Linked DNA regions of Homo sapiens. The protein of the gene in region 4 interacts with the protein of the main gene of each other region in a pairwise test. Each region holds a gene or a part of one and is shown on either strand. Other genes may lie near its edges.

Evidence for each region.
Region 1: the proteins of OTUB2 (region 4) and PHLDA2 interact in binary tests that used the Homo sapiens proteins (3 or more experiments, as listed by UniProt).
Region 2: the proteins of OTUB2 (region 4) and CPSF6 interact in binary tests that used the Homo sapiens proteins (3 or more experiments, as listed by UniProt).
Region 3: the proteins of OTUB2 (region 4) and SPART interact in binary tests that used the Homo sapiens proteins (3 or more experiments, as listed by UniProt).

Annotation. Positions count from the first base shown.
Region 1 is NC_000011.10:2,927,739-2,933,475, forward strand, and holds PHLDA2 (pleckstrin homology-like domain family A member 2), read right to left. Parts: upstream 1,683-5,737; 5' UTR 1,627-1,682; coding exon 1,168-1,626; 3' UTR 1,158-1,167; intron 930-1,157; 3' UTR 535-929; downstream 1-534. UniProt on the Homo sapiens protein: Plays a role in regulating placenta growth. May act via its PH domain that competes with other PH domain-containing proteins, thereby preventing their binding to membrane lipids.
Region 2 is NC_000012.12:69,249,559-69,256,595, forward strand, and holds part of CPSF6 (cleavage and polyadenylation specificity factor subunit 6), read left to right. Parts: intron 1-1,570; coding exon 1,571-1,780; intron 1,781-3,492; coding exon 3,493-3,596; intron 3,597-7,037. UniProt on the Homo sapiens protein: Component of the cleavage factor Im (CFIm) complex that functions as an activator of the pre-mRNA 3'-end cleavage and polyadenylation processing required for the maturation of pre-mRNA into functional mRNAs.
Region 3 is NC_000013.11:36,343,362-36,350,998, forward strand, and holds the start of SPART (spartin), read right to left. Parts: upstream 3,034-7,637; 5' UTR 2,864-3,033; intron 2,773-2,863; exon of another isoform or gene 2,440-2,772; intron 2,214-2,439; exon of another isoform or gene 1,819-2,213; intron 1-1,818. UniProt on the Homo sapiens protein: Lipophagy receptor that plays an important role in lipid droplet (LD) turnover in motor neurons.
Region 4 is NC_000014.9:94,036,340-94,043,339, reverse strand, and holds part of OTUB2 (ubiquitin thioesterase OTUB2), read right to left. Parts: intron 5,961-7,000; coding exon 5,865-5,960; intron 4,378-5,864; coding exon 4,259-4,377; intron 1-4,258. UniProt on the Homo sapiens protein: Hydrolase that can remove conjugated ubiquitin from proteins in vitro and may therefore play an important regulatory role at the level of protein turnover by preventing degradation.

The DNA.
Region 1 (5,737 bases), on a different chromosome or scaffold from region 4:
GGGGGACACACTTCCTGAACCCTAACTGTCTCAGACCATCCCTGTCTTTCAAAGAGCACAGCCAGACCGGAGGGCAGAAAGCCGTGGTCAGCTATCTCAGAAAGAGGGGCAGGGATTTGCTGCACTCAGGCCTCTCCACCCCAATGTCCTGGGCCAGTACCTGGAGGTGCAGGGACCTCTGCCTCCTGCCCCACCATCGGAGACAGCCCAGAACTCTCTCCTGTTCCCCCAGAAGCAAAGGCGACCCTGCCCGCCCCACACTGCGGGCACTGGCAAGGAGCGGCTGGCGGCGGGCAGCCAGAGGGCTGAGGGATTCCTTCTGGTCTGACTGCGCGGGTGGTTTGTGGGCAGGAAGTGCTGCTGGGGAAGGTTCCCCCACCACAGGCAGCAGCAGCTCGGACCCAGGGCCCTTGTCCTCCCCAGGTTCAATTCCTCAGGACACACCAAGGAGCAGAAGGTAGCCAGGGTCAAGCCCCAGGGCACTTCCTGGCCTCTGGGGAGGCTGCTTGGAAAAGAGGGTGTGGACCAGGCCCAGCAGATGACACGATTCATTTATTCATTCAAAGCCGGTTCCCAGCGCCTTTCACACCAGCCCCGCAGGACTGGATGAGGGTGTCCTGCCCGCCCATTCCTGGGCCTCCACCCTCCCAGCAGGAGTCTCACTGAGCCACAGCCGGATGGTAGAAAAGCAAACTGGCCAAGTGATTTATTTGCAATGGGCACAGTGATGCAAAAACAAGATATTAAGACTATAAAATATGTGACTACAAAGAACCAGCGAAATAAATACATAGATATTAGATAGTCCAATAACTTAAGGCGCCCGTGCAACGGAGCGAGGATCCGCGCGCACGGGAAGTTCTTCTGCTGCAGGGCTGGAGAGCGCCGGCCACGTCCTAGCCTCGGTCCGACTCGTCCAGCGTATGGCCCTGTGGGGAAAGGACTGGGTCAGAGAGCTGTGCCAGGGCCGGTCCGGGTCCAGCCTGAGGGGCCCCGAGACCCTGACGCGAGGGGGCCAGCGCGATTGCGGGGCGCCGGGTCCCCCAAGGAGGTGCAGCGCCCCCGCCCCGCCGTCTGGGGTTGAAGTGGTTTTTCCCAAAGGCCCCGGTCCCGGCTGTTAGGGCGCAGGGCTCGCCGGGACGCGGGCAGTCACTCACCGCGGCGGGCTCATGGCGTGCGGGGTTTGGGCTGCGGGGATGGCCTGGAGGGCTCCGAGGGCTCGGAGGGTGCGGCGGCCGCGGCAGCCACGGCGTCCTCGGCGGGTGCGGCGGGTGCGGTGCGTTCCTGGCGGCTGCGAAAGTCCTGCAGGGCGCGGCGGTTCTGGAAATCGATGAGCGCCAGCGCGATGGCCGCGTTCCAGCAGCTCTCGCCCGCGCAGCGGAAGTCGATCTCCTTGTGGTCGGTGGTGACGATGGTGAAGTACACGTACTTGCCCGTGCGCTCCACGCAGTCCACCTTGAGGATGGAGTGGAAGCGCAGCTCCTTGGGGCGCGCGCGGGGGCTGGCGGGGAACAGGCTCAGGCGGTCGGAGGTGAGCACCCCGCGCTTCTTCTTCCATAGCTGGAAGAGGCTGTCGCTGCGCTTCTCCAACTCGCCCTCGCGTAGCACCTCGTCGGGGGATTTCATGTCGTGCCGAGCGCGGGACTGGGAGCGGCAATGCGGGCGGTGACGGCGCCGGCTCTGCTCCTCGTGGCCCCGGCGCGGCCTTTATAGCTGCCCCTCCCCGCCCCGCCCCTCCCCGCCCCGCCCCGGCCCTCGGGCCACCCCGCCCGCCTGAGCCCCGCGCGCCCCGGGCCATACCCTCCCCAAGCCCAGCCGTCCGGGCCCGCACCGTCGCGTCCGCGCTCTGGTCGGTCCCCGGCCGTCCCCTCCCATCTCAGAAGCCCGCGCTCCTCTTGCCCCCCGTGCCCCAGCTGTCCGGCCCCGTGGGGTGACTCGAGGTCCCGCCCCGCCCGGGCGCTCGCCCGCACCGTCTCGCAGGCCGGCCCCGCGGAAGAATGCGCTGCAGCCAGCCCTGCCCGCGATGACTCACGCCGGGGAGCCCCGGGAAGCACCCGCGGGCCCGGGGCCGGCCCACCGTGGGGAGACAGCCGGGACCAGACCTTCACCCTCCAGGCGCCCCAAGTCCAGCCCTGCCGCTCTCGGGCTCCCGGGGCAGAAGGAGGGTCGAGGCCCCCTTCCTTACTCCCGAGCCCTGGCCGTTCCGTCCTGTTCGGGGGCCTTTCCCAGGGCCGCCCAGAGACCCTCTCCGAAAGTGGCCCTGCCCTAGCGGACCGAGCTCCTATCTTGCCACCCACGGGCTGCGCCAAGAACGACCACCTCTCTTAGCCTCGGTTTTCGCTTCTGTGAAATGGGAACAGTAACCTTTGCTGGATTAGGGAACACGTGGAAAGGGCTAGACCAGCAACCCATAGAGCTCAGAAAATGGAAGGGGAAGAGGAAGCCCGTTCTCCTCCCTGCGCCCTCGTAGTGTCCCGAACTGGGGTACGGACTGCTCCGACCGCGCCCCCACGACCCGGACCGGAGAGAGGTCCCAGGAGCTGAGGGGTTCGGGCTGGGCCGCGACGCCCGCTCTCTGGGATCAGCCTGGGGGCGAGGGTCGGCGGGGGCGGCTGAGTCATCGCTTTCCAGCTGGGCAGACGGGCGGTTTTATTTACCCTCTTCCTTTAAAGGGTTTAATAGACAGGAAGCGAAAGCCGGCTCTTCCCGGGTTCCCAGGGGTGGGGGTGGAGCCGGCCGAGAGGACCCCAGAGACCCCGGCTACTACTCCACGTCTCCCACCTTCCCGCACCCCTGCCCCCTAGCTGCGCCCTGGGGTGGTTACAGCAGGAAGTCCCAACTCTGGGGTCAGAATTGGCCTCAATGACGGGGCTCACGCAAAATGAAAACGAGAGTCCCCTGATTCAAAATGTATTTAAAATGTCAAGACAGTGGCAGCAGAGCGTAAAACCCAGACCTGGGACCAGCCCTACCTCCACCTGCCCTTCAGGGTCACTGTAAAGGATAAAGAGACGTCCGGCTCAGAGGAGCGCCCCAGACCCGGTTCTGTGAATGGCATGCAGGTAGCAGCTGCCCGGTGGTCCCACCGGTGTGGCCAGAGGACCTGGCAGTGGGCAGGGATGTGGTGTGGAGGGGCAGTGCCGGCAGAGGGCAGGGTTGGGCTGTGCCAGGGTTCTGGCCTGGGAGTGAGACACCTGCCTGGGGCCGGCGGGTCAACACTGCCCCCTACCTGACACCTGTCCTTGCAGCAGGGCTGGGATCCTGTGGTGAGGGAGCAGCAGGTAGGGTGGGTGGGTGAGGGGAGGTCAGCCTTTGGCGGGGAGAGGGGATTCGAGCATTGTTCCGGAGAGGCTGCAGGAAGGATTCGGACTCTGGTGTCCCTTCTTTTGCTTCCAGAGGGCCCTGGGCTGCCGGACAGTGGGACCTGGGCAAGAGGCACCTCTGGGCAGTGGGAGACCAGGAGAAGCGGCCGGGGGCAGAGCGCTCTGTCACTGCGCCAGCCCACAGGTGCCTGGAACACCTCCAGGCCCACCAGCCTGCCTACCCCATTGAGGGGCCAGCCAGTGGAACTTCGGCTCCAGGCAAATCCCCCGACACTCGTGGTTGCTTAAGCACCTACTGTGTGCCTGCAGGCCTGGCTGGTGCTGGGACCCCAGAGGAGGGGAGAGGAATCCCTCTAAACCCCAGGGGCACAGCAGGTACATGAGGATGGGGATAGGGGTCGGGGGTACTGGAGGCCAGGAGGACAGCTTGGAGGACTCTGTGGGGAGGGCGTGCCCTCGAAGATTCCAAGGAGACCTTGAAGGGCCAGTGGTGCCCGTATGCCACCACTGTGCCCAGCCTCCACCTAACCCAGAGAACTCCCCAAAGTGGGCACTCCAGCCCCTGTTCCACAGAAGAGGAAACTGGTTCAGGATGGAGAGGGCCTTGGGGAAGGGACAGAGAACAGGCAGGAGCAGATAAGGGGCTGAGAGAAATGAGGGGGAGGAAGAGGGTTTGGAAACCAGGTGAGGCCAGGTGAGGTGTGCTCCCCCAGCCCCGCCCAGCTCCTCTCTTTGCCTGTACCCCAGTGGCCCTCTCAAGGGAGGCTGGGAAACTCACTCCCCTGGGGGCAGGACTTACAACCCAGGGGTGATGCTCTGACAGGTGGGGCAGGAGCTGGGAGGCCAGGGGGCAGGGTGTGCAGCCGAGATTCAGAGGCCCTGCCCTCCCTAGGGGATTTCCTGCCCACTCAGCCCCTCTCTGCTATTCCCCTCATGGACACTGTGAAGACCTGGGGGGTATGGGGGTGGATGGCCCTTTAGGGGCTGCTGGAAATCAGGTCTGAGCCCTGGAGGCCAGGCCTCCCCAGGCAGCTTCTCTGCCCACAGTCCCTGCCCCAGGGGCTCAGTTGTAGTGGCCCTGGCCTCCCCAGCAGCTGCTAGACACCCTGGGCCCCTGCTCGGCCAAACCAGCCTGAACCTGGTTGCCAATGTGGGGGCTGGAGGGAGCCGACTCCCAAGCCTTACCAGCCCTGGACCAGCAGGTGACTTCAGGAGCCCCCAGGGTGTCTTTATGGACATGGGCAAAAATAAACCACGGCCTTAGGAGGTGAGAGGGGCTTGGAGGACACCATGCCAACTTGGCAGGTACTTGCACACAGGGGCTGCCCCATCCTCTCTGCGTCCACCATCCACCCGAGGGGCTTTACCACCACCACTAACTCACACTGCCGTCTGCCCCTCTGAGCCACCCGCCCTCTGCCAGCCCCCGCTCGGCCTCCCTTGCCTGAGGCCTGAGCCTCACCGCCTCACCTGGTCCCACCTGGGGCTGAGCGGTGCCCCCAGGAGAAGCACTGGCCCCAAGCTGCAGATGCAGAAAGGGTGGCTCAGAGAGGTGCAGTGACTTGTCAAGGTCACCTTTCCAAGGAGGGACCCTATCTCTATCCCCCAGAGCAGGCCTGCCTGAGGGTCCCCTCTGGAGGATGAGGGCTGTGACACTCACTTCCTGGGATGTGGGGGAGGGATGTTGAGGCAGAAGAGTGCTGACACAGGGACCCCACATGAGGGTCTTTTGAGGAATGCCCCTCCTAGAGCCATTTGATAGCCAAGAGCCTGGGAGCTTCTCCAGCACAGCACAGAGATTGGAACCCGGCGTGGATTCGGCCACACCCCATGGGACCTGCTTCTACGAGGGTTCTGGACCACTCACGTGCTGGAGGCGGAGGAACCACCTGCCGGAGAGATGCCAGGGCCAGGCACCGGCAGGAGAGTCCGTGTGGCCCTGCCCCGTGCTAGTTCTGTGCGGTCATTTCTCCCTGTTGAGACTGCTTTCTTGGGTTTGCAGGGAACACTGGGTGGGGGTTTCAGAGAGGTGGTGACTCACCCAGGTTACACAGTGGCCAGTGCGGCCACATCCACAGCTTCCCCGATTCTGTGGCACCCTGTGGCTCGGGGCAGGAAACAGCCCTGATGTTCTGTGACTGCTTCTCAGGATGGGGAGGGGGCTCTGCCTCGAGTTGGTGGTGTCAGGCAGCATCAGTCCAAACCGGGTTTACTGATATTTATCTGAGGGGCCACATCCAGGATTCATGCAGAGCCTGAGCCAAGGGCCCCCACCCCTGGGCAGGCATTGTACAGTCTGGGTGCCCAAACATCTGGCCTGGGACACTGGCTGCCCTGTCCAGCTGCCTGGACCCTTGGCACCGGAGCCCAGCTGTGTGAGGCTGTCAGCAGCTGGAGTAGGATGCGGGCACCTC
Region 2 (7,037 bases), on a different chromosome or scaffold from region 4:
GTCTTATAATTGTCTTTTTCCTTATGTCAGATGTTCTATGTCATAAGAATAAAATGGTTCACACCAATACAAGTACTTAGTTGTGGAAAGGGAGAGTAGAAGATAAAAATGGAGATTTTCCTGTGCTACAGGCTTAGTCAAGCTTATGGTCTATTTAATGGTTATCAAAGGCAATTAAATAGTGTTGAGTGTTCTGCTTTTACCTACATTTCATTTTTCATGTACTTAGTTACAAATTGAACCCTCTTCTATTTTTTTCCTGCTCCTGTTTCTGTTTCATTTTAGTTTTCCTTTTCCCTGATTATCATTTAGGCATGTAAGTGACACCCAGTAGCATTGCTTTAATTCTGCTGGTGACAGTGCCAAAGCTTTACTATACTCTTTTTGTTGTCTGTTGCTTTTCTCTTGCTAATTTGCTTGACTAGATAACTAAGAATTCAGGTAAGCATTAGCTCTTTGTTCACTGAGAATAATACAACTTGCAAGATAATTAATTTGGATTGTTCTACATGTATTTCGTTTATTTCTCTTTACCTTGTTCATTTATTACGACATTTTGAATTATTTACATACCCATATTTCTTCTTTCTTTTATGGCTCAGCTCACTATGCTTTTTTTTAATACTGGTAGCTTCCTCAAGGTTGGAAAACAAGATCTGAATACTATAGAAAATAATAACTATTTTTCTGTGGTCATATTAAAGATATAATGGCTTTGGATTTTGGGGTGATTTTTCTACTGTCAGTTTAAAAAAAACTTGTCTATTTGCATTTGTGTGTTATTACTTCTAGTTAAGAGTATTTCCAAGGAAAGTTTCATGTTACTTATTTTGTTTCCATGTCTTTTTCCAAAAGAACTTATTTTTTATATTATAATAAATATCAGTGGAAAAGTAGGTTTCGTTATATAGAAATTAACTTTAGGCTGGGTGCAGTGGCTCAAGCCTATATTTGGGAGGCCGAGGCAGGAGGATTGCTTGAACTCAGGAGTTCGAAACTAGCGTGGGCAATGTAGCGAGACCTGGTCTCTACAAAAAAAAAAAAAAAAAGAAAAAAAAGAAAAGAAATAAAGGAAACCCCCTTTTTTTGTTTTTTTGTTTTTTTTTGAGATGAAGTCTTGCTCTGTCGCCCAGGCTGGAGTGCAATGGCACGATCTTGGCTCACTACAACCTCCGCCTCCCAGGTTCAAGCGATTCTCCTGCCTCAGCCTCCTGAGTAACTGGGATTACAGGCGTGTGCCACCATGCCTGGCTAATTTTTGTATGTTTAGTAGAGACAGGGCTTCATCATGTTGGCTAGGCTGGTCTCGAACTCCTGACCTCAAGTGATCCACCTGCCTCGGCCTCCCAAGTGCTGGGATTACAGGTGTGAGCCACCACTCCCGGCAAGAAATTCACTTTTTAGACCTGTTCAAGAATACATCTATTGCATAAAGTGGAAAAAGATTTGTACTGAAATCCTTGGCCTTTTTCCATCAGATTTTTAAAACAAAAAGTTGAATTTGTATTCAAGTCTATTTTAGTAGTATTTTGACTTTTGTATAATCTAGAGCATTATTTCTGTATCTCAGGAAGCTGAATATGGTGGGCATGATCAGATAGATTTGTATGACGATGTCATATCTCCATCTGCAAATAATGGAGATGCCCCAGAAGACCGAGATTACATGGATACTCTCCCACCAACTGTTGGTGATGATGTGGGTAAAGGAGCAGCACCAAATGTTGTCTATACATATACTGGAAAGAGAATTGCATTATATATTGGAAATCTAACATGGGTAAGTGAAGTTAATATAAGAATTAAATTATTGGTAATTGATTTTGAACTGCTCTAGTAATTAATGTTTTTCTCCAGATTTTTATAAGTTTGAAGTTACTGTGTTTTTCTATATGTGTTTGCTTGTCCAATGAGGAGGGAAATACAAATATCTTTGCAACATCGTTAATTCGAATTCTTCTAGTTTTGAGTTTTGTGGTCATTCAACTTTTCTTGGTGGAGATACTAGTTAAATATAGTTAAATTAGTTTTGTCTTCAGTTACCTTTTTTATGCTACCACTTTACCTTGCTTCCGATAGCCCAGTTTCACTAAAAATAATGCTCACATGGGGTCTCAAACCAGGATTCAAGTGTAAAAGGAAAGAGACATAGTATCACTCCTGGTTTAAAAATAGTGTCCATTATTTAATTTGTGTTACAAATTTGAGTTTTATTTCTGCCCTTAAATTTGAAATCTGATTTATAGAAGCACTTCTGTGCGTATTATATTTTAATTTGGGTTGTCATGAGACTAAGATTATTGATTTAGAGCTTCATTAAATGCACATATGTATATTTATTTTTTATTAATATTACATCTTAAGTATCATTAAAATAGTCCTATAGAATGTTTGTATTTCTACTTAGTTATATGTATACTTGAAAGTTAAAAACTTGTATATGCAAAAATCAATAAAACTTGGCACCCTTGCATTTCCTTAATAACACTGTATTTTTAAACGTTTTATTTACATTTCTTTTTTTCAGGGGGAGACAGAATTTGCAAAACTCTGTCACCCAGGCTGGAGTGCAGTGGTGTAATCATAGCTCACTGAAGCCTCAAACTCCTGGGCTGAAGTGATTCTCCTGTGTCAGCCTCCAAGTAGCTAGGACCACAGGCATGTGTCACTCTGCCTGGCTAATTAAAAACAAAACAAACACTTTTGTAGAGCTGACTTCTTGCTATATTGCTTCAGGCTGGCCTCAAATTCCTGGCCTCAAGTGATCCTCCTAACCAAGCTCTCAAAGTGCTAGGATTATGGTGCCCAGCCTATTTACATTTCTTTTAAAACTAAATGTAACAGATCTCCCACCACCCAGTCTGAGTATTCTATAAAATTGGAGACAGTAGCAGTGTAGTTATGAAAGTATGGTTGCTAAGTAAGTATTTGGATCTTAGCTCCACCATCTATTATTAGTTTTGTGACCTTGTTAAAGAGTTAAAGCTCTTTAACTTCTATTGTATCATGTGTAAAATGGGTATAATAATAGTGCTTATATGGTTGTTATAAGAGTTAGTTGATACATAAAGTATATGGTAGATATTAAATACATGTTAGTTTTTTCTTATCTGCATTTTAATTCAAAAACAAGATGAAATTCAAAATACTTTCCTTTAATGGGAGGAAGTGAAATTGGTTTTATTCACAATTTAAAATCATAGCAGTTTAAAGCTGTAAGGGACCAGAAACTCTTGAGAGTCAAATCTTATTGTAACCCCAAGGGTATATACCTTCTAGTTTCTGAAATACTTATCAGGGAATGAAGTTAGGTTCCCAGATGGTTTTTGTGCTGTTTAAAAATTGGAGTCTGACTGGCCATAACTAGACTTAGATTTGCACTCAGCATTTATTTTCTCTTTTATGTCTCAAATTTCCCCTTAAAAACTAGACTGGGATAATAAAAATCTTGGTTTTATTTTAATGGTTAATGAGGGGGAAAATATCTTGCAGTGGACAACAGATGAAGACTTAACTGAAGCAGTTCATTCTTTGGGAGTAAATGATATTTTGGAGATAAAATTTTTTGAAAATCGGGCAAATGGCCAGTCAAAGGGGTAAGTTTTTTTTTTCTTTCTTTTTGATTTAGTAGCTAGTGATACAGTTTTTACAAGTTAACTTTCCTTTAAGTTAATGTTAATTACACATGTATACACATGTATACAAACAACACATGATTGTTTACATTGGAAGGAGGTTCTTGGGCAAAGATTGATACTTTTCATTTTACGTACCCTATTACCTAACACACTAAAACCAGTAGAGTGGAAATGTGGACAGATTTATTTTCTATTTTTCCCAAGTTTTCTCTATCTGTGGTTGAAATGGTTGTTGAAATGACAGTTTAAGAACCATTACTCTCCCTGTGATTAAGAGATGGGAGAAGATGGGCAACTGAATAATGTGTTACATGGATATTTTGCTTTATTTCACTACTAAACTATACAAGTGGGATAGCCTCAGCATGAGAACATTATAAATACAGATATCTAAAAGTAAGAAAATAAAATACCACTGTCCTACCATTCATTGATGTTTACTTTTAACATTTTAGTGAAGATTCTTTTGGGCTTTTTCCTAAAAATAAATAAATAAATAAATAATGGAATTATAATTCATGTGTTTTATATGTTTGATATAAGGAATAAAAATAAATACACATCCTCTCTAATGTCTAATTCTTTTGCATCATACCTGGTATGCTACTGTAATTTACCTTTCTTATTTTTGGTTATCGTGGTGGTTTCCACTTTTGCCTATTGTAAATAATGTTGCAGCAGACATCATTTTATATAAGTCTTTTGGTACAGATTTTGGATTTTCTTTTAAGGATAAATTGTTAGATGCACAATGATAAAGAATTTTCTTATTTCTTATATTGCTTACTTATCTTAGAAGATTATACCAATTTATACTAAACTGAGAATATTTTCAAAATATATGCAGAGTCTGAATACTTCTCACTAACTTTACTTATACCACTTGGTCAAAGCCACTATCATCTCTCACTTAAACTTTGGCAGTAGCTTCCTAACTGGAAGTATAGACTGCCCCCTACAGTCTGTACTCCACATAACAGAAGTTCTAAAAAAAAAATGACATTCTGCTCAATCTTCTCATGGTTTCCTGTCTGTCTCATTCTTTACCATTGTCTACAAGGTACTTTCTGGTCTGTTTTCCCACCACCTTTCTAACCCTATCCTACCACTCTTTTTCAGCCACATTAGTCTCTTTGCTGTTGGCCAGACCAATTCCTACCTAGGACCTTTAGCTGTTTTCTCTTCTTGGTTTACTTTTCCCCCTCAAATATCCACATGGCTTACTCTTTGACTTCATTCAGGACTCAAACTGTTTAAGAGTTTTCTTCCATGACCATCTTGTGCAAAGTAGCACCTTCCTATCCTGTTTCCTTTATTTCTGCTCTGATATATTTTACTCGTTTGTTGTCTCCTCTTCCAAGCCTTTAAGCTTAATGAGAACAGAGATTTTGTTTTGTTCTCTATTACTTCTCCAGCTCTAGAATGGTACCTTGCGTATAAGAAGTGGTGCTTAATAAATATTTGTTAAATTAATTTAGTTTTTTCTAAATGTTGTGACCCAAGATAATCCTGGTGCAAACAGCAGAACTTGTTGACTAAAATAAGAAGGATAATTTAAAAGATCATATTGAACATTAGGGGGAAAAGAGCTTAAGCTTCTTAAGCTACTAAGACCCTCCCTCCCTCAAATAATTTAGAATATCCTGTAACTATACGAATTGGTAATCATTCTGATTATTTTAAATTTGTTTTTCTTTTTGAGGTATAATTCATATGCCATAAAATGCAGGCTTTTAAATGTACAATTCAATGATAATTTATTATATTTATGAAGTTTAGCAACCATTACCACTGTCTCATTCCAGAACATTTCATCACTCCAAGAAGGAACCTTGTACCTGGTTAGCAGTCACTCCCATTTCCTCTCTTCCTATCTGCTGGCAACTGCTAACGTGCTCTGGATATGCCTGTTCTGGACATTTCATCTAAATGGAATCATAAAATACGTAGTCCTATGTGACTGGCTTTTTTCCTTAGCATAATGATTTTAAGGTTCATCCATGTTGAAGCATGCATCAGCATTTCTTTTTATGGCTGAGTAATATTCCACTACATGGATATAGCACTTTTTTCTTTTAATCTATCAGTCGATGGACGTCTAGGTTATTTCCACTTTTGGCTATTAAGGAAAATGCCCCTGTGAATATTTGTGTACCCATTTTGTGTGAACATGTATTTTCAGTTCTGTTGGATGTGTACCTAGGAATGGAATTACTGGGTTAATATAGTAACTCTATGTTTAAATGTTTGAGGAATTACCAGATTATTTGCCAGAGGCATTGTGCCATTTTATTAATACGTGCTCATCAGCAATGTGCAATGGTTCCAGTTTCTCCACATATTTATTTATTTATTTATTTATTGAGACAGAGTCTCACTCTGTCACCCAGGCTGGAGTGCAGTGGCGCAATCTTGGCTCATTGCAACTTCTGCCTCCCAGGTTCAAGCGATTCTCCTGTCTCAGCCTCCCAGCGTGGGACTACAGGCACACGCCACCATGCCTGGCTAATTTTTGAATTTTTAGTAGAGACGGGGTTTCACCATGTTGGTCAGGCTGGTCTTGAACTCCTGACCTCATGATCCTCCTGCCTTGGCCTCCCAAAGTGCTGAGATTATAGGCGTGAGCCACTGCACCCGGCCTCTCCACATCTTTAATACTTGTCTTTTTGATTATAGCCACCCTAGTGGGTATGGGGTGGTATCTTGTGGTTTTGATTTGCACTTCCCCAATAGTTAATGATATTGTACATCTTTTTATTGTAGCAAAAAGTGGAAGCAACCCAAATGTCCATGAACTGATGGATACATTTCTTTTAATGTTGTATATTTATAATGGAAAATTATTCACCCATAAAAGTAAGTGGTGATGCATGCTGTAACAGTGGATGAAGCTTGAAAACATGCTAGTTAAAGAAGGCTGGTCACAAGGGACCTCCTATTGTATGATTCCATTTAGATGAAATGTCTAGGATAGGCCAGTCCAGAGACAGAAATTAGGTTTAGTGGTTCCATAGGGTACAGGGATGGGAAGGAATGGGAGCGATGGCTAATGGATATGGAGTTTCTTTTTGGGGTGATGAAAATGTTTTAAAATTGATTATGGTGGTGGTTATAACACTGTGAAATACTAAAAACCACTGAATTATATATTTTGAATGACTGAATTCTATGGTATGTTATACAAGATGAACAAAAATGTGTACTCGTATAGTTAAGAAATATTTTTAGTTTTTAAAATTATTTATTTTTAGAGACAGGATCTCACTGTGTTGCCCAGGCTGGAGTGCAGTAGTGTGATTATAGGTTACTGTAGCCTCAAACTCCTGGGCTCAAGCAATCCTCGTGCCTCAACCTTCTAAGCAGCTGGGATTACAGGCATGAGCCACTGTGCCCAGCTGT
Region 3 (7,637 bases), on a different chromosome or scaffold from region 4:
AAAGGAAGTGTGTAAAATATAATGTATTTTAAAAATTGATGGTGATGGATATAAAACTACAAAGATATGATACCCCACTGAATACAGGTGAAAGAATGATGTACCAATATTAAAATGTTAATATCAATACCATGTGGGAAACTGCATTCTTTTCAACTAACGCATGATGTAAAATGCTGTAAGTTAACCAAAAGTGTGCAAGAGGGACAGTTTTACAAAAATTATTTGGGGGTTCACAAGCAAATTAAAAGTACTGCTTTAAAAATCACTCACAACTATAATATATAGCAAAGATATAATGGACATGGTCTGTCTCTGGCCCTCAGAAGCACCAAAATTTACTATCTTTTGTTAAGCTCTCTATATGTGTCTGGCACCCTTCTAAGGTTATCCAATCCTCACTCTTGGAGGTTGATATCTGATTTTAAAAATGTTTTACAAATATTGAGCAGCTTGCCCAAGAAGAGAGCTAGTAAATGATACATTCAAATCAGTTCATGGATCAGAAGATTATCTGTCAAGAAAATTAAATGAGCTCTCGCCTGTAATCCCAGCTACTGCACAGGCTGAGGCCGGAGGATCGCTTGGGCCCAGAAGTTCAAGGTTGCAGTGAGCTATGACTGCACCACTGCACTCCAACCAGCCTGGGTGACAGAGCAAGACCTTGTCTCTTTAAAAAAAAAAAAAAAAGAAAGAAAGAAAAGAAAAATGAAAATGAAAATTAGATGAGATGTGTTTGATTCCAAATCTAAAAGTCCTACTATGTTTACAAGTCAGCAGAGTGAGGGAGGGGTGAAGAAAACCCAGAGTGTCCCGTCGTAGAAAGTCATGTGGCTTAAATCTTCAATAGGTAGCATTTGAAAGTAGAAGCGAGGCATAATGAAGGAATATAGCTAGAAGCAATATTTACCTTGGGTATACGTTTATTTCTAAGCTTATTTTACATACGGTGTGATGAAAGATTTCCTAATAATGTGTCAATGGAGGGAACAAGATGGCTACTGAGAAAGAAGAGTGTGCCTGTGTGTAGGGGTGGAGTGGGAGGGCTAATTCCACAGGATTGCTTAATAACCTTCCTTGCTACATCTCCATCTTAAAGAGAAAAAAAGGATACACGAGAGAAGAGCCTGGGTATCTAGAGGTTATATATAAGTCTAATGGTCAATTTCAGTCTAATCTCTGGGGAATCTCAACACAGAAAGAAAAAGGTTTATATTAAAATATCACATTTTTATTTTGTGACTGGGATTTGCTATATCCTCAGCGGTCTCAGAAAATACATTTTACAGAAATAAGGATTGGAGGATGGTGACTTAAAAAAAAGCCTATTCTATTCCTAAGCACAATTAAGTGTCAATCAAGTGTCCTGAAAAGATAAAAACCATTATCACATTATTTCACATTATTTAATTTTCAAAGTTAAGAAGACAAAGTCTTTGAAATGACAATCTGATGTATTAAACAGTACCTACACCAGTGTACAGTCTTCAACAACAAACCAAAATCTGTTCCGATACCAGTAGTTCACCTAAATTCTAATTTTTTAACGTTCTAATAAAACACATTTATTTCAACATAACTACATGTATGTCTGTGTATGTCTTAAAAAATACCCGAGAAAAGGTAAAATTCTGCATTAAAATACCTAGCAATTTAGTTCGATTCCATAAACACTGAAAGAAGTAACACTCTCACTTAACAGTCAACATTACAAGCAGTCTTTAATAATACCGCATTTAACTCCTTAGAGCTAGCACAAGTTGATCTAATGCCTATTTGGCCCTTTACCAAAAAAGCGGAGGGGGCTTTGTCTAACACCTGTATACACCTCCCTCCGTAGCATCCCGCTCATTCTAGCTTCTTAGGGAAACCATAGACAACGACGTTTCAGAGAGTGCCAGAGGTGAAGCCGACCCGAAACCACATTACAGAAAGGCTTCCTGTTTCAAACAGGTCCAATAAAGCCACCAAATTAAGTCTACGATTATAAAGAACTGCGAATCAGAAAATAATTCCATATAGGTGCAGTCTTCTATTACTTTTTTCCCCACTTTCGGAAATTTCAAAGAAAAATTGCTACATTCTTAAATATGAGGCCATTATTTCAAAGGCTGTAACAACCTGGAACGCAAATTCGTTAAATTATGATACAATAAGGCCAACCTCGAGGATCCTCGGTGGACTACTAGCGCACTTCCTTACAATTAGAAAGTGAAAAACTGGGTCAGCCCTAGAGTCACGCAATAATGCTGCGTCACGAAACTGCGCATTCCAAGAGAAACTTTTCTCAGGCCCAGAATTAAGTCGGAGGGATCCGCCGCGCAGCTCAATCCCTAGGAAGCATGAAAGAATGTATTGTAAAGAGTAAAATCACGCGCAATCCATCCCAATATAACCGCAGTTGTTCGTGGGCCTTCTTGCAGAGAAAGGCTGCCCAACCTTGACGGGGCCATGGGCGCTGCGGGAGGGCAAAAGACCACAGAGATCTGCGAAGCCAAAGTAAACAACGGGGTTGGGGCGGCGAGAATGATCAATAGCGATGCTCCGAAAGGACTCCGCGATAGGAATCGAGCGGGAAGGATTCCCTCCATCCTAACAGTCCATGGGTTAAGAGGCCGAAGCTTCCCTAAATACCACACTCCCGCGAGAGAAGGGACTGAGAACAACTTCTCAAACTATTCTCTCTCGAAATCGCTCCCTTCCTCGAAAATTCCATCTCTGAGACTCGGATGAGGTCCCCACCCCCTCCACCCTTGTCCCGTGACCGTCGCCCGCTCAGCCTCCCAGCCGAGTCCGCGGGGCCTGGGGCGCCCACCCCGCCCACCCAAGGGACCGCGCAGGGGTGAACTCCCCCGCGCCCCACCTGCGCCTTCCAGACCTCGGGCGCCCCGGCGTTGCCTCGAGAGCTCCCTGCGCGGCCGCCGCGGCACGGACCAGCTCCCACTCCCTTACACTGGGCGCCGCTGCGCTCGCCGGGGGCCGGTCCCGAGGTTCCCAAGGCCTCGCGCGCGCGCTTGCCGTGGCAACCAAGACGTTCCACGACGCGCGCTCTCGAACGCTTCGCGTCACGCGGCCGCGCGGCCCCGCCCGTCGGCCTCGCTCCCGCCACAGAGCCCGCAGCACGCCGCCGCCGCAGCCTAGGTCACGTGAGTACCCACGCGCGCGTCTTGCCAGCGGATTCATCACCGGCCTGCTCAGACTAGGTTCTGCCCACTCTGACCTTCTAAATGGTACGTGGGAGGACGTCCGTCCCCTTCGGACCCAAGAGTCACCGTAACACTCTAGAAGGGGAGAAAAGGAGCGAGGGCGGCAGGCGACAGAGAACCTCGCGAGTCAGCGGCCCCGCGCAGACCCCCCCAGGCACGGTCCCCTGCGGCCACGTCGGCTGCTCGGCGCCTGCGCAATCTCTTTCTCTCCAGCGAAACCGAGGCCTCCGGAGAGCCTAGTAGAGAGTGTGGGCAGTGAGCGCTTGTAGCCGCTAGAGGGAGCGCTGGGCACAGTGCACGAGAGACAATAAAGGCTGATTATCCCCTCAATGTCTCTGCAGCCTGAGCTTTGTGACTTCTGTATCCAGAGCACAGTTAATTTCCAAAAGCCCGCCTGCACCACGTGTTTTAAGTCTTGGTGTGTGTGTAAAGTCTATATCACTATCATAAAACTGTTAGTTCCTGATTCCGGGATACAAAGAGTAAAATCAAGATGAACATACTTTACCCTTCTTGACAAGTGTTTTTAAATTAGTAAAATATTGTAGATGACAGACTCTTCAATAGGGCTGCCTTAGGGAAAAAAAAACAGAAAAAAGAAAAAGCAGTATGTACTTGCCCGGAGCATTTAGAACCAGTTTTGTTGTTGTTGTGTTTTTGTTTTGTTTTGAGACAGAGTCTTACTATGTTGCCCAGGCTGGAGTGCAGTGGCATGATCTCGGCTCACTGCAACCTCTGCTTCCCAGGTTCAAGCGACTCTCATGCCTCAGCCTCCAGAGAAGCTGGAATTACAGCTGTGCACCACCACTCCCGTCTAATTTTTGTATTTTTAGTAGAGACGGGGTTTCACCATATTGGCCAAGCTGGTCTTGAAAGCTTGACCTCAAGTTAGCCAGGCTGGTCTCGAATTCCTGACCTCAAGCGATCCACCTGCCTCAGTTTCCCAAAGTGCTGGGATTACAGGCGTGAGTCACCGCGCCTGGCCTTAGGACCAGTTAAGTGACTCCCTCAAATCTCAGAAAGGTAGCAGTCAGTCATCCCAAAAAGCAAAACCTATTAGGAATATATTAATACAGTGGTTTCAAAATGATTTTGCTCTTATACCCCCAAAGGAGTCCCCAAAGACTATGACTGTATTCTCACTTCCACGTTTTTGGATTGACCATCACAATTTCTCATCTGACTTAAATAGTTACAAAAGAAGCAACTTCTGTTTTATTATAAATTAACATTTTAAAATAAAAGTTATATAACTTTTAAATGTAGCCAGTGGAATCTAAATACCAATTTAATATCTAAAATCATCAATTTTTAAAACTACATGAACAAGCTTTTAACAGAAGGAAATTTTACATCATTTCTTTTCTTCTTGAACTCATATTTCCGTTCCATATTGTGAAATTGTATGTCAATATTTCTTTAGTCTTGCAAATATTGGCCAGGCTTGGTGGCTTATGCCTGTAGTCCCAGCTACTCCAGAGGCCGAGGCAAGAGAATCGCTTGAGCCCAGGAGTTCGAGACCAGCCTGGGCAACATGACGAAACCCGTCCCTACAAAAAAACACAAAAATTAGCTGGGCATGGTGGTACACATCTGTAGTCCCAGTTACTCCAGAGGCTGAGGCAGGAAGATCACCTGAGCTGGGGAGGCAGAGGCAGCAGTGACTGAGATTGTGCCACTGCACCCCAGCCTGGGCAATAGAGCCAGACCCTGTACCCCCTGGCCCCCACCAAAAAAAGAAAGGAAATCTTTTATTGGTCATCTACTCTACTTCTTTACATTTAAAAAGTACATACATTTAAATAGAATTTTTTAAATTTCCAACAGCCATAAAGATGAATGTGTTTAAAACATGTAGAATTTCTATACACAAAATTGTTATATATAGAAAACCCTAAAGAATTTACTACAACACTGTTAGAACTAATAAATGAGTACATCAAGGATTCAGGACAACAGGTCAACATACAGAAATCAATAGTATTTCTATACACTAGCAATGAACATTTCAAAAATGAAATTAATTCCATTCATAATATTATCAAGAAGAATAAAATACTTAGAAATAAATGTAATAAGTGCAAGACTTGTATGCTGAAGACCATACAACATTGCTGAAAGAACTTAAAGACCTAAATAAATGGAAAGACATCCCATGTTAAAGGGTTGAAAGACTTCATATTGGGAAGATGGCAGTACTTCTCAAATGGACCTCCAGACGCAACACAATCCGTGTCAAGATCCCAAATGACTTTTTTGCAGAATTTTGCAAGCTGATCCTAAAATTCATACAATCCAGGGAAATATAAGGACCCAGAATAGCCACATGAGCACACACACACAGATCTTGAAAAAGAAGAATGAAGTTGGAGGACTGACACATTCCAATTTCAAAACTTAACTACAAAGCTGCAGGCCAGGCATGGTGGCTCACACCTGTAATCCCAGCACTTTGGGAGGCCGAGGCAGGCGGATCACCTGAGGTCGGGAGTTCGAGACCAGCCCGACCAACATGAAGAAACCCGGTCTCTACTAAAAATACAAAATTACCTGGGCGTGGTGGCGCATGCCTGTAATCCTAGCTACCCAAGAGGCTGAGGCAGGAGACTCACTTGAACCCGGGAGGTGGAGGTCACCGTGAGCCGAGATTGTGCCATTGACTCCAGACTGGGCAACAAGAGCAAAACTCTGTCTCAAACAAACAAGCAAAAAACTGCAGTAAGTCAGTGTGGTTAATTTTTGTTTTATGAGGTATGTTTATGTTCACAGAAGCTTCCACGTATGGTTAAGTTACTGCTAGCCATAGTAGTCTAGTGCTGACTTCTAGGAATATTCGTACTACTGACTGCAGAATTACCTGGCATCCAAACAGAAAGACACTGGCCAGGCACCATATTGCTTTCTGTTTGGGTCCTACAGTGCCCAGTACCAGAAGGATGTGGTAGAAGGAACAAGTAAAGTGAACAGGGCCAGAAGCTCATCTGTAGAAAAGTGTAAGCAAAGGATTTGGTTTGCTCCTCAGTACCTGGTCAAAACCTGTATTAGTGGTCCTTCCAAATTCGATAATTGTGAAATTCTGTGACACTCTTAATACTGAATTATGAAGCTGAACTGAGCTTTCCTAAATTATATTAAAAAGCTAATCTTGATAAACTATGCTAGAGGAAAAACTGAATTATCTGTTATCTCTGTGGAATATGTTGCAAAATCATTTTCATATGAAGAAGCAATCAGCATAGAGCCAAGAAAGGTGGGGGAAAGTATTATGGGCTGTGCCAAGCACCTGAATAATAGAATGATGTTATTTTTCTGGATTTTGTGGTATCTGTAGTATTCGTCAGCTTTTTTAAATTAGTAATTTTTTGATTCACTTTTATTATTTTCCTACAGAAGGCCATTCAAACTGTGAAAGCTGCAAGCATCACAAAACTTGGATCTGCTTAGGCCAAAGGGGTGCTTGAGATTAGCAGAAAATAATTGCGTATATTTGGAAACATGTAAAAAGCCATTTTTAACATTTAATATATCTTATTGAGGTAAAACAAGGATTGGATTGTCAAATCAGACTGACAAGATTCAGAGCTTTCTTTTACCCAGTCACAAGAAAATAATGGCAGTATCCAAAACCACTAACCCAGGTCCCCAGGGCTTCCCCGAATTCCTTAGAACACATTCTGGCTTAGATCTCGCAGGTGAGGTCTCTGAGTAAGTTATGCCGGTGAACACTTACACAGATGGAGCTCTTTCAGTCAGGAACTATCTCCGTTTTATACTGAAATAATTACATGGTGGACACTGACATTTTCCACTGGGCCATTCCATGTATTAATATATCGATCAATTCCGGGTTTATTTACCTTAGGCCATCTAGACAGACCAGGTGTACCCTGCTAAAAAGCATTTCATAGACAAGGACTCCCCATTCTCTTTCCACCAGAATATACCTTGCATGTTTACAAGGAGATTTGATTTGGTCATTTCCACCTGGCCATCTCAGGATAGGAATAATTGGCTAAAAACCAGCTGCTGTCACTTAACTTCTAACTTTTCTCCCCTGTCTTTTTTTCTTACCAGATCCTTCTAAAAAAAATAATTCTCTAAAACTAGTGAATAATTGTGGCTGAGGTCTTTAAATGAAAATTACCATCATACCATTATAGAAGAGAACAATATTTTGAAATCATGGCACTTTTGGGGCTTTTACCCCTGGGTAATGCACCAGAGTAAGATTTAGGGAGCTGTGTATTTCTTGCATAAAGTGGGAAAAGTTTTAGTGTGAAAGGAGGAGTAGGAAAAAAGATACTAGGAAATAGCACATAAAAAATTAAAATCTGGGTATTGATTATCTTATCTTATATCCCTGTAAATTTCTGCATACCTCCAGTGGTATACATACCCCGGTCAAATATTTTTACATCACATACTTGTAGC
Region 4 (7,000 bases):
TCCCACAAGGACCAGGTGAGCGGCCCTGGGTGACCAGCTGGCAGGCGCAGAACACTAAGGCCACACCTAGTTCTCCAGCCCCTCACTTTGCCTGGGAACGGAGATGAGGCTCTGACAGCACCCAGGAGGCAGAAGGTTCACAAGGGAATACAGAGGCCTGGGCCACCTCAGAAGGTGCTGTGCTCCAGAAAAGCCTGGTGCCTTGTAGGAGGACAGGGGGCAGTGAGGAGGGAGAAGGTGGTGGGTGTGGACGGGAAGCTGGTCTCCTAACTCAGAAGGAGGAGTATTTGCCTAGATGCCGCTTGCCCCTGCCTGGTCCTGGCATATCTAACAGTCCTGCCTGGGCCAGGACTAGTTTGTCCTGATTGCAGGGTGAGGTGCCTGGATTGGAGGGATGGAGCCTGTGCTGGCTTCTAGCCGCAGTCCCCTCCAGCCCTGTCAAGTCCCCCTGTGGCTTTTGGCCATAAGCTCCACTTTGGCGCAAGTGTGGATGGTGATGACGCCTTGACTGCAGGGGTGCTGAGGGCGAACGGAGAGCTGCCTGGGAGGACGAGGCCTCCACTGCAGTGGTACCTGCTGCCTAGGTTTCCCCTCCTGGCCAGGGCAAGGATCTGATGGTCAGTGCTGGCTAACGCCTCTCACTCAGGAGCCACCCTCATCAGCACCCCCTGTTCAGTCTTCAGCTGCGGCTAGGTGGCCCATGGCCAGAGTACTAGAAGCAGCTCCAGGAAGCAGCTGCAGTCCTCCAGGGCTGCTCCAAGGGCCGGCACCCTCTTCTAGCCACTCTGTCCCTGCATGGCCATGAAGTGCACTGCTCTGCTCCCAGCTCTCCTGCCCCCCCTCCCACCCCCAAACCTCTGCCTCATTCCACATTCATTCCTCGCCAGTGACTTGTGGGCCCCTCTGTGCCAGGCACTGGGGCACGGAGATAAGCAGCATGCAGTCGTAGGCTCTGTCAGAAGGGGGCAAGCCCCCAGGCCAGGACATGCACCCCCGAGAGGCAAGCCAGGGATAGGGAGAAGGATAGCACTGGGGCTTGGAGGGGGTGCAAGTTCAGACCGCTGGGGCTGCACACAAGCCTGTGTGGGACCTCTGGCAAGTCATTTGACCTCTATGAGGCTCTGTTTGCTCATCAGATGTGGTAGTAACAGTGGCTGCCCTCAGAGGCGGCGCGTGTTCTCCAAGCCTCTGGCACACACAAGTACTTCGCATACTTCTAGAGCAAGTATGCAAGATACAGGGCTGGAACAAGCATACTGCTGCAACACGCTTGCTCCAGCCCTGCAGCAGCACTGAGCAGAGAACAAGTGTCTGCCTGGGTGGCTCTGGGCTCACTGCACACAGGGAGACAGTGGCTTGTGGAGGATGCATGACGCTGACGCTAAGAGCTAGCACGGAACACCCCAGGTCAGTGTTCCAAGTGCTCACGAGTCAATCACTTAATGTCCGTGACAGGGCTATGGCCACTGTTCAACTGGGGAAAGGAGCTACAGAGGAGTGAGTGAAGCAGCCTGCCTGGGGCCCAAGGAACCCACAGCCGGGTCAGAAGCAGGGCTACCTAGGCCCAGGCAGCGTCAGGCGGCATGTCATGCCTGCAAGCTCTGGTGTGTGTAGGATAAGTGAGTCCCTGTGCCTAGAACTCAGGGTGGGTAGGCAACGGGGCAGGAGAGGCAGGGGCCTGGTGTGGAGGGCGTTGGTGTCAGGGGTTTCCACTGCTCCTAGAGGTCAGGGGCATATTTCAAGCTTGGGAGTGACATGGTCTCGGTTTTTGTGTTAAGAAGATGCAGGCTGAGGAGGGAGGACCGCCTGAGCCCAAGAGTTCGAGGCCAGCCTAGGCAACATAGGAAGACCCATCTCTTAAGAAAAAATAAAGAGAGAAGGAAAATATTTTAAAAAAAGAAAGAAAAAATGCTGGTGGTCTCATGCAGCCTTTTGGTTTGACTTATCACCTGTGTGCCCCGGCCTGCCTGCTGAACGCCAGCCTTATACCTCCACTGCCCACCAGACACCCCTACTCTATGGCTCCCGGACATTTCAGACAGCATCGCAAAACACAGCTCCTGATATTCCTCAGCCCTCCTTTGCAGCAAACGGCTTCTCCATCCTGCTAACTCTCAGGCCAAACCTCTGGGAGCCATTCTTGACTCTGCCATGTCCAACATGTGAGTCGGGCACGAATCCTTTCGCCACCTTCACAGGTGTCTAGACCTGCCCACTTCTTGCCATGCCCACTGCATCCACCTGCTCATGCCACAGCCATCTCCCCTCTGGATCTCTCCCCGACCACATCTCCCTGGCTGTGTCTCCGCCCCCGTCTGTCCTGCACACAGCAGCCAGCAGGGCAGGTCCCCCGTGCTGCGCAATCCCTCGGTGGCTCCCGTGTCCTTCAGGCTGAAAGCCAAGGTCCTTAGAAAGGCCCAAGGCCCTATGTGCCCTGCCGCCCTTACCTCTCCAACCCTGCTTGAAACTGCCAACCCCAGACCTTGCACTCCTCGGCCTCCTTCCTGCCTGATTTTTCCCACAATACTTATCACCATCCGACACCTCAAACGTGATACTCATGTACTGTGCATCTTCTACCATTAGGACGCAAGCCCCACAAGGCAGGGATTTTGTCTCTCTTGTTCACTGCAGTATCCCCACAGCCTAGAGAAGGGTCTGAGCATGGCACCCGTGTGTGCTGACTGGAGTGGGGAGACAGGACGGAGTGAAGGTAAACAGAGCACGTGGGCTGGTGCAGAGAGAAATGCAGGCGCTGGGCTTAGCCAGCATCACCCACTGAGTCCTCACAATAGCCCCCTGAAGTGTGTTATAATGTCCACCTTCCACAGGCATGAAAACAGGATCAGAGAGATCAGGTCACTTGCCCAAGGTCGCACAGCAAGTAAGCAAGAGAGTGAGGTCTGGCCTCAGAGCCCAGGGCTGCTGCATGGCACAACTCCAGGGGACATGGGTCGTGGGGAAATGAAGTTGGGGTCATAATCCCTGCACTGTGCTGTGTTGGTCCCCACAGGGCTGTGAGAAAGTTGGGGAGGGGAATGGCTTGAGATAGCTGACTCTCCATCAAAAGGGGCTCTGCCAGTCTGTCACTGGCAAAACAATCTGAATGGTTCAGCCAAGGAACAGATGGCTCAACTTCTACCCTCTTTGAGATCATCTATATTTTGAACAGGAGACGATGGCCTTAACCTAGTAGTTCTCAACCAGATAGGGTCGACTTTTTTCCACCGAAAGAGGTTTTTGGCAGTGTCTGCAGGCAGTTTTGATTGTCATGACTTGGGGAGGGGGTTACTACTACTATGTCACGGGTAGGGGGCCAGGGATGCTGTTAATAGGCCTACAATGCATAGGACAGCCCCCACCGTGAGCATGATCTGGCCCAAAACGTCAGTCATGCCGCCGTTGAGAAACCTGCCTCAGCCAAAGAAGTGCTCTGGGACCCACTGCCCCCCGTACTGTTTCCAGAGAGCATGTCGGTGCGGGTCTCAGATGAGGAGGGCCCATGGCCCTCACCAAAGCCTCTAAGGGCTCTGAGACCCCCAAAGGTTAAGAGCCAGGTGGGTCTCTTAGCTCCTTGCTCCTCAAAGCGTGGTTTGAGGCCCAGCAGCATCAGCATCTCCTGGGAGCCAGTGACAAAAGCAGTCCCTGCTCTGCCCTGCTCCCACTGGACAGGAATTCGGGTCCAAGCCAGGTCTCAGGGGTTTGTTTGTCTTTGCTTTTTTTTTTCTTGCTATGGACTAGAGAACCAGGCGCCTTGTACAAACTTCAGATATGAGAAGCCCTGAACTAGCCGAGATGACAGGGGCAGCTCTGGACACAGACCTTCTCCAGCATGAACCTCAGGGACAGGCCCAGCCAGCTGAATGCCTGGGTCACACACACTCCACACCAAGGTCAACAGGAATTATGCAGAACACCGGGGCAAAGCTTCTTTTTGTTTGTCTTTTCTTTTCTTTTCAGAGTGGGTCACGAAGTACCTGCTCCCTGCGACTCACCTGGGCTGACCCAGGCCTGTGGTGGAAGCAGAGGCTGGAAAGCATCTGGGAGGTCACAGATTCCATCCTCCACCCCTTGGCTGCCCCCAACTTCACCACAGCAGGCAGCTGGGCACCCCCAACATCAAACGCCTCTGCCAGGCAGCTCTTCAGCTCATTCTCTGGGTTAACCAGCCTGAGTGTAACGAAAACCTCCGAGAGACTTGAGGCTGACCTAGCACAGAGAACACAGCCCTGACAGGCCAAGGGGCCCCGGCACTCACTTGAAGATCTCCCTGCTCTTCCCCAGCAGGGACTCCAGGTAGGAATAGCCCAAGGCCCTGTAGAAGCAGTTCCCATCCCCTTTGGTCTTGCGGATGGCGGTGAACCTTTTGCTGAGTTCCTGAGGGGGACAGAAAGAAATGTGGGCATTTGCACCAACAACGGCTCTGTGTGGTTTGGGCACTGGGACTGGCCAGGTGCCCCCCATCTCTCCCAGGAAATGTCTGCTCCCTCCCTTCAGGCTGCTATCCCCTCAGCCTCCCACCCTCGTTCATTCCCCTGATATAAAAATACACTGCATTGTCCTGTGTGTCCGTCCCTGCCCCCAGGCAGCCTACGGTCCGGGAGGGAAGATGGATAATTAGACAGTGGCATTGTGAGGGGACAGGAGTGCCTGGCTGGGTGCCACGGGGCACTGGCATTGCACTGGATTTTGGAAGTTGGGGAAGCCTTCCTGGGGGAGCAGCACTGAGAATCGGGAGCTGGCAGAAGTAGGGGGTAGGGGGTTGCATGTGTGAGCAGGGGCGGGAGGGGTGGGCTCCAGCTCCACTCCTAGCAGTAAGTAGGTGTCCCTCTGAACTGGCCTGGAATCCCCTTTCCTGCCTCATGGGACTATAAGCAGCATTTTGACAGCAGAGGATGGTTTTCAAGGGGTCTTGGAGTTCCTGTTCCCCCCATAGCCATGAGAAGGCTCAGAGCCGACTTGGGCCCACCTGAGGCCAGCTGGCAGTGGGGAGGCAGGCACTCTCTGGAGCCCCTGGCTCATCTCCCAGGAGGGCTCTGGGGGACACAAAAGTCAGTGGGCTGCAGAGCCCAGCTCCTTCCCTGGAAGTGCCCCGCAGCGGCGTTCGGATCACATGATGCCCACACCACTACCCCTGGCTGCTGATGGACATCTGACCCAAGCTGGACCTATCAGAGTCTCTGAGGATAAGTAATGAGGCCCAGCAACGGTGCTGCGTGTCTGAGAGGAACTTGAAGGGAAGGGCCTGTGGGGCCAGTGCCAGAGCAAGCCTGTCCTGCAGCGAGAGGAAGACCTGCAGAGTGCAGAGAGCGGCCAGGGCCTCCTACCAGAGGGACAGAGTGGGCACCCAGCTCCTCCTGCCATCCACGGGTGAGTGCTCCATGAGCGATCCCTGCAGCCTTCCCACAAATCCCTTTAGCCTCACTGGCGTAAACTTTCCCTCCAAGAGGTCTCCCAGCACAGCAGTTATGAATGTGGCTTGAGACTCAGCTGCCTGGGTTTAAATCCTAGCTTGGCCACTCATGAACTAAATGGCCACCACTTAATTTGTGTGCCTCAGTTTCCTCAGCTGTAAAATGGGGGTAATAAAAGTACTTACCTCACAGAGTTGTAATGAAGTATTGGTGAGTAAATAAAACATTAGGATAGTGCTAAACTTTTCAACAAAAAAAAATCCTTTTTTTTTTTTTGGAATGAAAGGATTTATCGCTAAGGCAAATGTCCAACATCAAAATATCCTAGGAATCCTTTCATTTGCCCAGGAACCTGGCCCAAACTATCGGCCTTCAAAGAGGCATCACCATTACACTCCCAACTCCAGCCTGTTTAGTTTCGGATGCTCTTCTCCCTGCCCTCTGCCTCACCTCGATTTTCCTCCGGTAAATCCTGTTTTCAGGATGGTCCCGAAGAATGGATAGAATGTCACATTTTTCTGATATTAGGTTGAAAGATGTTTCACTCTGAAAGATAGGGAAGGAAGAAATGCTGTGACAATTTCAAAAGCAACGGACGGGACTCCCCGAGCTGGTGGCCTCTGAACTGCCGGTTACAGACAACAATGAATGAGACCTTCCCACCTTCTCATGCTGGGAGTATGTTACCAGCATCCTAGACGCCCGTTGGGATCACCGCATTTCCAGAACAGGGATAGTCAGGGTCGGGGCCATCGTGAAGAGATAGCCCTGGTTATAAGGAAACTCATCTTTTTACTGGAAGCCTGATTCATTTCACAGAATGTGTACCTCAAACTTAACGAACCTTCATGCTGGAGGATAAGGCCCTTTGTCTCCTTCCATCCCTCTTCTCTCATTCATGCATTCATTCATTCGTTCATTCATTCTTTTACTCATCCAACAATTCCTGAACATCCACATGCCCAGCACTGTGTCACATGCTGGAAATACAGAAGGAAGGACGTCTAGCACTCCCTCACCCACAAGGCTCACAGTCTACAGGGAAAAACAATCAAGATAGGGGGTGATAAGGTCACCAGAAGAGGCCGCAGTGTGTGGCACTGGTACATGGAGATGCCAGAGAAGGTGTCAGAGATCTGAGCTCGGGGAGCACAGGGCAGGAGGGCATCTTCATGCACCACCTACCGGCGAAAGTTTACACTACAGCCCAGCTCTGGGTCTAGGTCAATTCCAACCCAGAAAGACAAGCCTCCTACAGGCAGGATCTCTCCAGGCCAGAGAAGAAATTGGCGGACAGAGAGGAGGCAACTGCAAAAGGAAGCTTCAGGGTGAAGGAAACTGCAGGAGACACGTTCTAGCAGCCAACTCCCCGTGGGCCTGGTCTCCGCCTTGTGCTATCTTGTCAGCAGGGCTCAAACAAGCAGGAGATGCAACTCTAGCCTCCAACCCACCCAGAGCCGCTTTGATTGCAGCATGAACATACTGTGAGAGACATGGTGTTAAAGCCACTTATAGTTTACAGCTTAAAATAAATGAGGCTGGCTCCTGCACACAACCCAGGGAGACCATTTTTATGCAATAGAGCA